Homo sapiens: one gene and its partner. The protein of the gene in region 1 purifies or fractionates together with the protein of each later gene. This does not show direct contact. Each region holds a gene or a part of one and is shown in the gene's direction. Other genes may lie near its edges.

What was found.
Region 2: the proteins of CABIN1 (region 1) and NASP purify together in Homo sapiens (affinity purification with mass spectrometry, with the first as the bait; one large-scale study listed by BioGRID). This does not show direct contact.

What each region holds. Positions count from the first base shown.
Region 1 is NC_000022.11:24,059,563-24,063,374, forward strand, and holds part of CABIN1 (calcineurin-binding protein cabin-1), read left to right. Parts: intron 1-361; coding exon 362-579; intron 580-2,384; coding exon 2,385-2,463; intron 2,464-3,396; coding exon 3,397-3,584; intron 3,585-3,812. UniProt on the Homo sapiens protein: May be required for replication-independent chromatin assembly. May serve as a negative regulator of T-cell receptor (TCR) signaling via inhibition of calcineurin. Inhibition of activated calcineurin is dependent on both PKC and calcium signals.
Region 2 is NC_000001.11:45,604,255-45,608,066, forward strand, and holds part of NASP (nuclear autoantigenic sperm protein), read left to right. Parts: intron 1-681; coding exon 682-762; intron 763-2,227; coding exon 2,228-2,337; intron 2,338-3,066; coding exon 3,067-3,812. UniProt on the Homo sapiens protein: Component of the histone chaperone network. Binds and stabilizes histone H3-H4 not bound to chromatin to maintain a soluble reservoir and modulate degradation by chaperone-mediated autophagy.

The sequences.
Region 1 (3,812 bases):
TTTCTTATGGCCAAATTCAGAGACTTCGCTTTGCAAATTGAATCTATATAAGCACACCTGTTGAGTGTGTATCAGTGTATAACTGTTGAGTGAGATTAGTGCACATGGCAGCACTTGGAGGTCTGCCCTTTTGATGTCCACCTTAGATACGGAGATTCAGAGAGGCTCAATCATAGCTGCTGAGGGTTGGAGCCAGGCATTGAACCCAGTAGCCTGATCTCAGCACCACAACGTGGTATCATGTCCACCTGGATCAGATGGTAGAGGGAGGGAACAGTCTTTACTGTCCCAAAGTAAATAGGAGACCCTGGCATGGAAGGTACTCTTTATTCAAGTCAGGTTGTTCTTGCTCCCCGGGCAGAAAAGCAGGACGTGCATGAGTTCCTGCTGGAGAACCTAACCAACGGGGGCATCCTGGAGCTGATGATGCGCTACCTGAAAGCCATGGGCCACAAGTTCTTGGTAAGGTGGCCTCCAGGCTTGGCGGAGGTCGTGCTCAGCGTCTACCACAGCTGGAGGAGGCACAGCACCAGCCTGCCCAACCCGCTGCTGAGGGACTGCAGCAACAAGCACATCAAGGTTAGGGGGAGCCTCTCAAGGGCTGGTATTGAACTGGGACCAGGGCATGGGGACAGGGATCTTGCATGGGTGTGGGGCTGCTGTTGTGTTTGGCTGCATCTACTTGTGGGCCTGGAACCTGGTTTTTTTGTGGGTGTCGAAGCAGGAAGTCACTGAACCTAGTTTGTGCCTAGAAAGCTCCCTGATGGCTGAGTGGAGGATACACTTAGGGGTGAGAGTGGGCTCACGGGGCTATCAGGAGGCTGCTGCCATGCCAGGGGAGCAGTGGCTGAGATCCAGTGGTAATAGTGGGGTGCTGGTTTGTGGTTGCAGAGCTGATAGGTTGAACTAGACATGGGATGTGTGAGGGAATGAGAGTCATGGGGAGGGCTTCTCGGGTTGTTTACTGAGTCACAGGAAGCCTTGCCAGGAGAAGCTGGAGGAAAGGGAAACATTTGGTTTGTTTGAGTTGGCAAGGACTGTGACTGAGGCTTTTGTTGTTGTTGTTTGAGACAGGGTCTTGCTCTGTTGCCTAGGCTGGAGTGCAGTGGTGCAGTCACGGCTCACTGCAGCTTCAACCTCCTGGGCTCGGGTAGTCCTCCCACCTCAGCCTTCAAAGTAGCTGGAACCACAGCCGTACACCACCACACCCGGTTATAGTCCCAGCTACTCAGGAGGCTGAGGCAGGAGAATGGTGTGAACCCGGGAGGCGGAGCTTGCAGTGAGCCGAGATGGCGCCACCGCACTCCAGCCTAGGCGACAAGGCGAGACTCTTGTCTCAAAAAAAAAAAATTTGTTTTGTTTTGTAGAGATGGGGGTCTCCTTTTGTTACGATGTTAGGATGTGGTCTTGCCATGTTGCCATGTTGCCCAGACTGGTCTGGAACTCCTGGGCTCAAGTGATCCTGATGCCTTGGCATCCCAAAGCACTGGGATGACAGGCGGGAGCCACCATGCCTGGCCTATGACTATTTTTAACAGATGATAAAACAGCAGAAGCTAAATAGCGTGCTTAGAGAAGCTTTGGGGGCCACCAGCAGTAGGGGGCTGAGCCTCACTGAGCCTTGTCTTCCTGCTGCATTCCACACCCCAGCCTCCTCCACTTGGTGCCTCCTGGAGCTCAAGGGAACACAAGGTGCTCTGGCCCCTTACTCCTGTTGGAGGTGGGACACTGAATGCTGAAGCAGGAGCACCAGGAACATTCAGGGATGCCTGGTGGTCTTTCTGACTTGAGAGCACAGGAGGTAGAAGAGCTTGTAGGTCAGTCATCCCTTGGTGGGCACCCTCCACTGAGTTACCTCAGGGCAACCTCCTGGCAGCTTCTGCCCACCAGGCCATGCTCCCCTGGGGCAGTTGTGAAACAGCAGGAGGAACCAGGGCTTTGATCCCCAGGCAAAGCAGGCTGATGATCACCTTCCAGCTGTGCCCAATGGGCAAGTGCCTTCTCATCACTGAGCCTCAGCTTCCTCAAGTGCCCTGGGAATGGTATACCAGCTGCCCAGAACTTTTAAGGGTTGAGTTCTATAATTTGGATGCAGTGTCCGTCCCAGCACTTGGCAGGTGACAGGGCTGCCTCTTCAACAGGACAAGAACTCTGAAGACCGGTCTCCTGGCCTCTCCCAAGTCTTGTCCCAACATACATCCATGTGGCTCTTTTTATGTTCTGGCGAGTAGCCACTGATTATCACTTATGAAATGGCAAGTGGATAGAAAGAATTATATTTTTATCAAAAAGTATAGTTTTGTTTCCTTCCACAGCCCCCTACCCCCCACACTGTGAAGAGGCTTTGTGATACTGTTCTTGACCTTCCTGTGTCTGTCCTGCAGGACATGATGCTGATGTCTCTCTCCTGCATGGAACTCCAGCTGGACCAGTGGCTGCTGACCAAAGGCAGAAGCTCTGCAGGTAGGAGGCATTATGTGTTCTGTGGCCAGGCTAATATCTGAACCCCCAGCAGCTGGGAGAAAGCTGAGGCGGGAGACTGAGTCATGGAATTTAGCCTTATATCTACAGTAGGCACATTTTTTGGGTTGGCTTGTCAGGGTCCCAGGGAAATCTCCTGGATACTCAAGAAGTGGTTAGCAGTAGCTGAGCCCCCAGAGGGAGCCACCTCCCTGCTTTGCTGTTACACAAGATTGAAGGAAGTGGGATCTCAGTTTTGGTGTGACTGTTCAATGCAGTGCTTTATGTATTATGTAGCTTCAGTAATTTTTCTGGTGATACGGATTTTTTTTTTTTTTTTTTTTTTTTTTGGTAAGACAGCGTCTTGCTCTGTCACCCAGGCTGGAGTGCAGTGGCATGATCTTGGCTCACTGCAACCTCTGCCTCCCAGGCTCAAGTGATTCTCCCATATCAGCCTCCCGAGGAGCTGGGACTACAGGCGTGTGCCACCATGCCTGGCTAATTTTTGTATTTTTTGGCAGAGATGGGGTTTCACCATGTTAGCCAGGCTGGTCTTGAATTCCTGACCTCTAGTAATCCGCCCACCTCAGCCTCCCAAAGTGCTGGGATTACAGGCATGAGCCACTGGGCCCAGCTTCATTCTGACTTTTAAACTACCACCTGGTGGAATGTAGATATACTCAATGCTGTCTGTAAAATTGCTTCCCCTTGCCCTTGCCCCTGACTCTCGGCAGGGGGCAGGGTCTCTGCATATCTTTGTCTTAACTGGTCCAACCTCTCTGATGCCTGCCACTCAGGGAGCTGTAGGGCTCTGAGGGGCTTAGGGTGCCCCTGGAGATAGGGTGGGTGTGGTTAGGGCCAAGTGCAACTTCTGAGAAGCAGAAGGGCATTAGAATGCTACACATGAAGTTGACTCGTTGGCCTGATGGTTTTTAGTGTCTCCTCGGAACTGCCCTGCTGGTATGGTGAATGGCAGATTTGGACCTGACTTCCCAGGGACCCACTGCCTGGGTGACCTCCTACAGCTGTCATTTGCCTCGTCCCAGCGCGACCTGTTCGAGGATGGTTGGCTGGAGTTTGTGGTCCGTGTTTACTGGCTGAAGGCTCGCTTCCTGGCGCTGCAGGTTAGTTCCATGGTCAGCTGCTTGGGGAGCATGCCCTGACACCCAGCAGGGTGGGCAGAAAATTGACCATGTTGAGGGTGTGTGTGTGTATGTGTGTGTGTGTGTGTGTGTGCATGCATGTGTACATGCATAGCACCTGCCCGGGCACTGGGCTTGGCATGAGAAAGTGTGACACAGTGGGGAATTCTCAGCATCTCAGACTTCCAAGCATGATACCAATCTGTAAAG
Region 2 (3,812 bases), on another chromosome or scaffold:
ACTTTCTCCTTTTGTTCATTATACTTACGTAATTTTTGTCCTTCTTCCTTCTGTCTAGATATTAATAGCTAAGACTTAATACACAGTGCTATTTGTTGTCTAAACATTGTTTTCAGTGCTTTTACATACATTAACTCATTTAGTTCTTGCAATAGCTCTTTGAACAAACAGTTATTAACATTCCCATTTTACAGATGAGAAAACTAAGGCACTGTGAGAATAATTTGTCTAAGGTCTCACAGCTAGTTATGGGTTAAAGGTAGGATTTGAATCCAGTTAGAAGAACTCCAGATATTCTGCGCTTTACATCATGCCTTTCCATGGGCCTTAATCATCCTCTAGGTCCCAGCCAAAGGTCCTTTAACTATTCTGATCCATACTGACATCCATCTTTTAGCAGGAGGAATACCTATTAATACCTTAGGGCTGTTTGGCCCTACATTATGTATTACTAATTGTAGCACATTTATGTCACTTAGGATGTATATATATTATATATTGATAAAGAGCATACAAAATTTTCATGCATTGTTTAATGTCACTTTGACCTTGAAAGCAAGAGGGGTATTGGTTTTCTAGGAGTATGTTACTGGAGAAATATCAATTTATAACTGAAGAACTAGAACTAAATGTTTTAGATTAGATGGTAATTCAGATTTTAGATGTTTATTCTCTTTGTAGAGGTAAGAAGTATGGAGAGACAGCTAATGAGTGTGGAGAAGCCTTCTTTTTCTATGGGAAATCACTTCTGGAGTTGGCAAGGTATGGATGTTGTATTTAAAAACTGAAGTTTCCTTGTTAAGATTGTTTACTAGCTTTGAGATTTCACAGGAGCTAAGCAAGATTGGTTTTACCTAGAGAGTTTTGAAGGAGCTTGAAGTAGTGATGGAAGTTGTGAATGGCACTTGATACAATTAGTAGTTATATTTAAGTTTTGACTTTTGGAGTCAGTAGAAGCAAAGTTCTTTCCAGTAGTGAATGATCCAAAGTTCAGTGTAGAGAATCTTTAAAAGCACTGTGAGCTAGCTCAAAACAAGGACTGAATAGAGGACAACTGGAAAGAATTAGCAAGTGAGACTGTCCAGTAAAAAAGACTTTTACTATTGAAAAGTTCTTGGCTATGTTCTATCAGAATTTATTAATCAGAATAAGTTCTGTTTAGGGTATACAAACTAGCAAATGATGTCATCTATTTAATCTCAGTTCTGGTAAGGTTTTTTTTTTTTGAGATGGAGTCTCAGTCTGTCACCCAGGCTGGAATGCAGTGGCGCGATCTCGGCTCACTGCATCCTTCATCTTCCGGGTTCAAGTGATTCTTCTGCCCCAGCCTCCTGAGTAGCTGGGACTACAGGCATGTGTCACCACACCCGGCTAATTTTTTATTTTTAGTAGAGACAGGGTTTCACCATGTTGGCCAGGCTGGTCTCGAACTCCTGACCTCAGGTGATCCACCCACCTCGGCCTCCCAAAGTGCTGGGATTACAGGCGTGAGTCACTGCGCCTGGCCCAGTTCTGATAAGTTTTTTTTTTTTTTTTTTTAAGACGGAGTTTCACTCCTGTCACCCAGGCTGGAGTGCAATGGTGCGATCTCTGCTCGCCGCAACCTCTGCCTCCCCGGTTTGAGCGATTCTCCTGCCTTAGCTTCCTGAGTAGCTGGGATTACAAGTATGCGCCACCATGTCCAGCTAATTTTGTATTTTTAGTAGAGATGGGGTTTCTCCATGTTGGTCAGGCTGGTGTTGAACTCCTGACCTCAGGTGATCTGCCTGCCTCCACCTCCCAAAGTGATGGGATTATAGGCGTGAGCCACCGTGCCTGGTCTCTGGTAAGTTTTTAATCTCGTAATCATACAGAACTTTCTCATGATTTGCCGTGAAAATCTTGCTAGAGTATTTTTGGCTATTTAGAGAAATCGGGTGGATACAAAGTTTGGGAAATAGTATGGTCCTATTACAAATGGAATGCATATAGGTCTTGTTCTTTTGACAAGAGACATGCTTTTCAGGCGGCTGGATGGAGGAATATGCTTATTTCCTTCAGTGCTCTTGCAGTCTTAATTTATATTACTAAAGTTTTGATCATTGCTTCCTTGAATATACATAGTTTTGTATTGCCTGCGCTTGGCTTACACTTCTTGCTTTTATAATATAGGACTGTATTTTCTGTCTTAGAAAAAATTGCTAGGTTCTAGCCATCAAACCTTTGGTGCTTTCTTTTGTTCTCCTAGAATGGAGAATGGTGTGTTGGGAAACGCCTTGGAAGGTGTGCATGTGGAAGAGGAAGAAGGAGAAAAAACAGAAGATGAATCTCTGGTAGAAAATAATGATAACATAGATGGTATGTGGAGTTGCATGTGACATTCAAGAGATGCGACGTTGTATATTTCTTGTATACAGTGGTGGAAACGGGGCTCTACCTGTCCTGGATGGTCTCTCCTAAGATGCTTGGGGTGATGATGCCTGCATCTGGTGGAGATTGCAGTGGGGATAGCTGTTTACTGAAGCTGACAGCAGATTTTTGAAAGAGAATAACTTATTTTCTCAAGTAAATCCAGTTATTTCGATTGGGGTTTTTTAAATCAAAAAGATAAAAGCAAGATTAAATTGGTGTTTTAAATACTATTACAACCTTAAGTGTTTTTCTGATGCAAATTTTTTTAAACAGCCTGTGCAGTTCAGTTATTTTAATAGCAGTACTTTTAGAGCCCTTGTACATTTTTTATGTGTGCGAAAATTATATAATTTCTAAGCTGAATTTGGCTGCTATAGTTTTACATATCAGATGGGGGAGAATGAAAAGCTTGGCATCTCTTACCTAACTGGTAATCAGAATGCTCAAGTAAAACAATACCTAGTGTAACAAGCTTGGGTTTCTTTTGCAGTAAGTTGCTCTGCTAGCCGGGATGCTCCCTTTCCTTTTCTCTAGGGGGCAGATAATTTTTAGGCCATCTGCTGAAACTTGGTAGGCTTTTTGAGGGTTTAAAGGGAATGTATTTTTAGTTTCCATTTATGCCTTTATCATTAAACTCGAAGACATGTTTATGCTTCATGTTCTTTAACCATGTAGAGGAAGCAAGGGAAGAGTTGAGAGAACAGGTTTATGACGCCATGGGAGAAAAAGAAGAAGCCAAAAAAACAGAAGACAAGTCTTTGGCAAAGCCTGAAACTGATAAAGAACAGGACAGTGAAATGGAGAAGGGTGGAAGAGAAGATATGGATATAAGTAAATCTGCAGAGGAGCCACAGGAAAAAGTTGACTTGACTCTAGATTGGTTAACTGAAACCTCTGAAGAGGCAAAAGGAGGAGCAGCACCAGAAGGACCGAATGAAGCTGAGGTCACTTCTGGGAAGCCAGAACAGGAAGTACCAGATGCTGAGGAAGAAAAATCAGTTTCTGGAACTGATGTCCAAGAAGAGTGCAGAGAAAAAGGAGGTCAGGAGAAGCAGGGAGAGGTAATTGTGAGCATAGAGGAGAAGCCAAAAGAAGTTTCAGAAGAGCAGCCTGTGGTGACTCTAGAAAAGCAGGGCACTGCAGTGGAGGTAGAAGCAGAGTCTTTAGACCCGACAGTCAAGCCAGTGGATGTGGGTGGGGACGAGCCAGAGGAGAAGGTAGTTACCTCTGAAAACGAGGCAGGAAAGGCGGTTCTTGAACAACTGGTAGGTCAAGAAGTACCACCTGCTGAAGAGTCACCAGAGGTGACAACAGAGGCTGCAGAGGCCTCAGCTGTAGAGGCTGGATCAGAAGTCTCTGAAAAGCCTGGGCAGGAGGCTCCAGTTCTCCCTAAGGATGGTGCAGTCAATGGACCGTCAGTT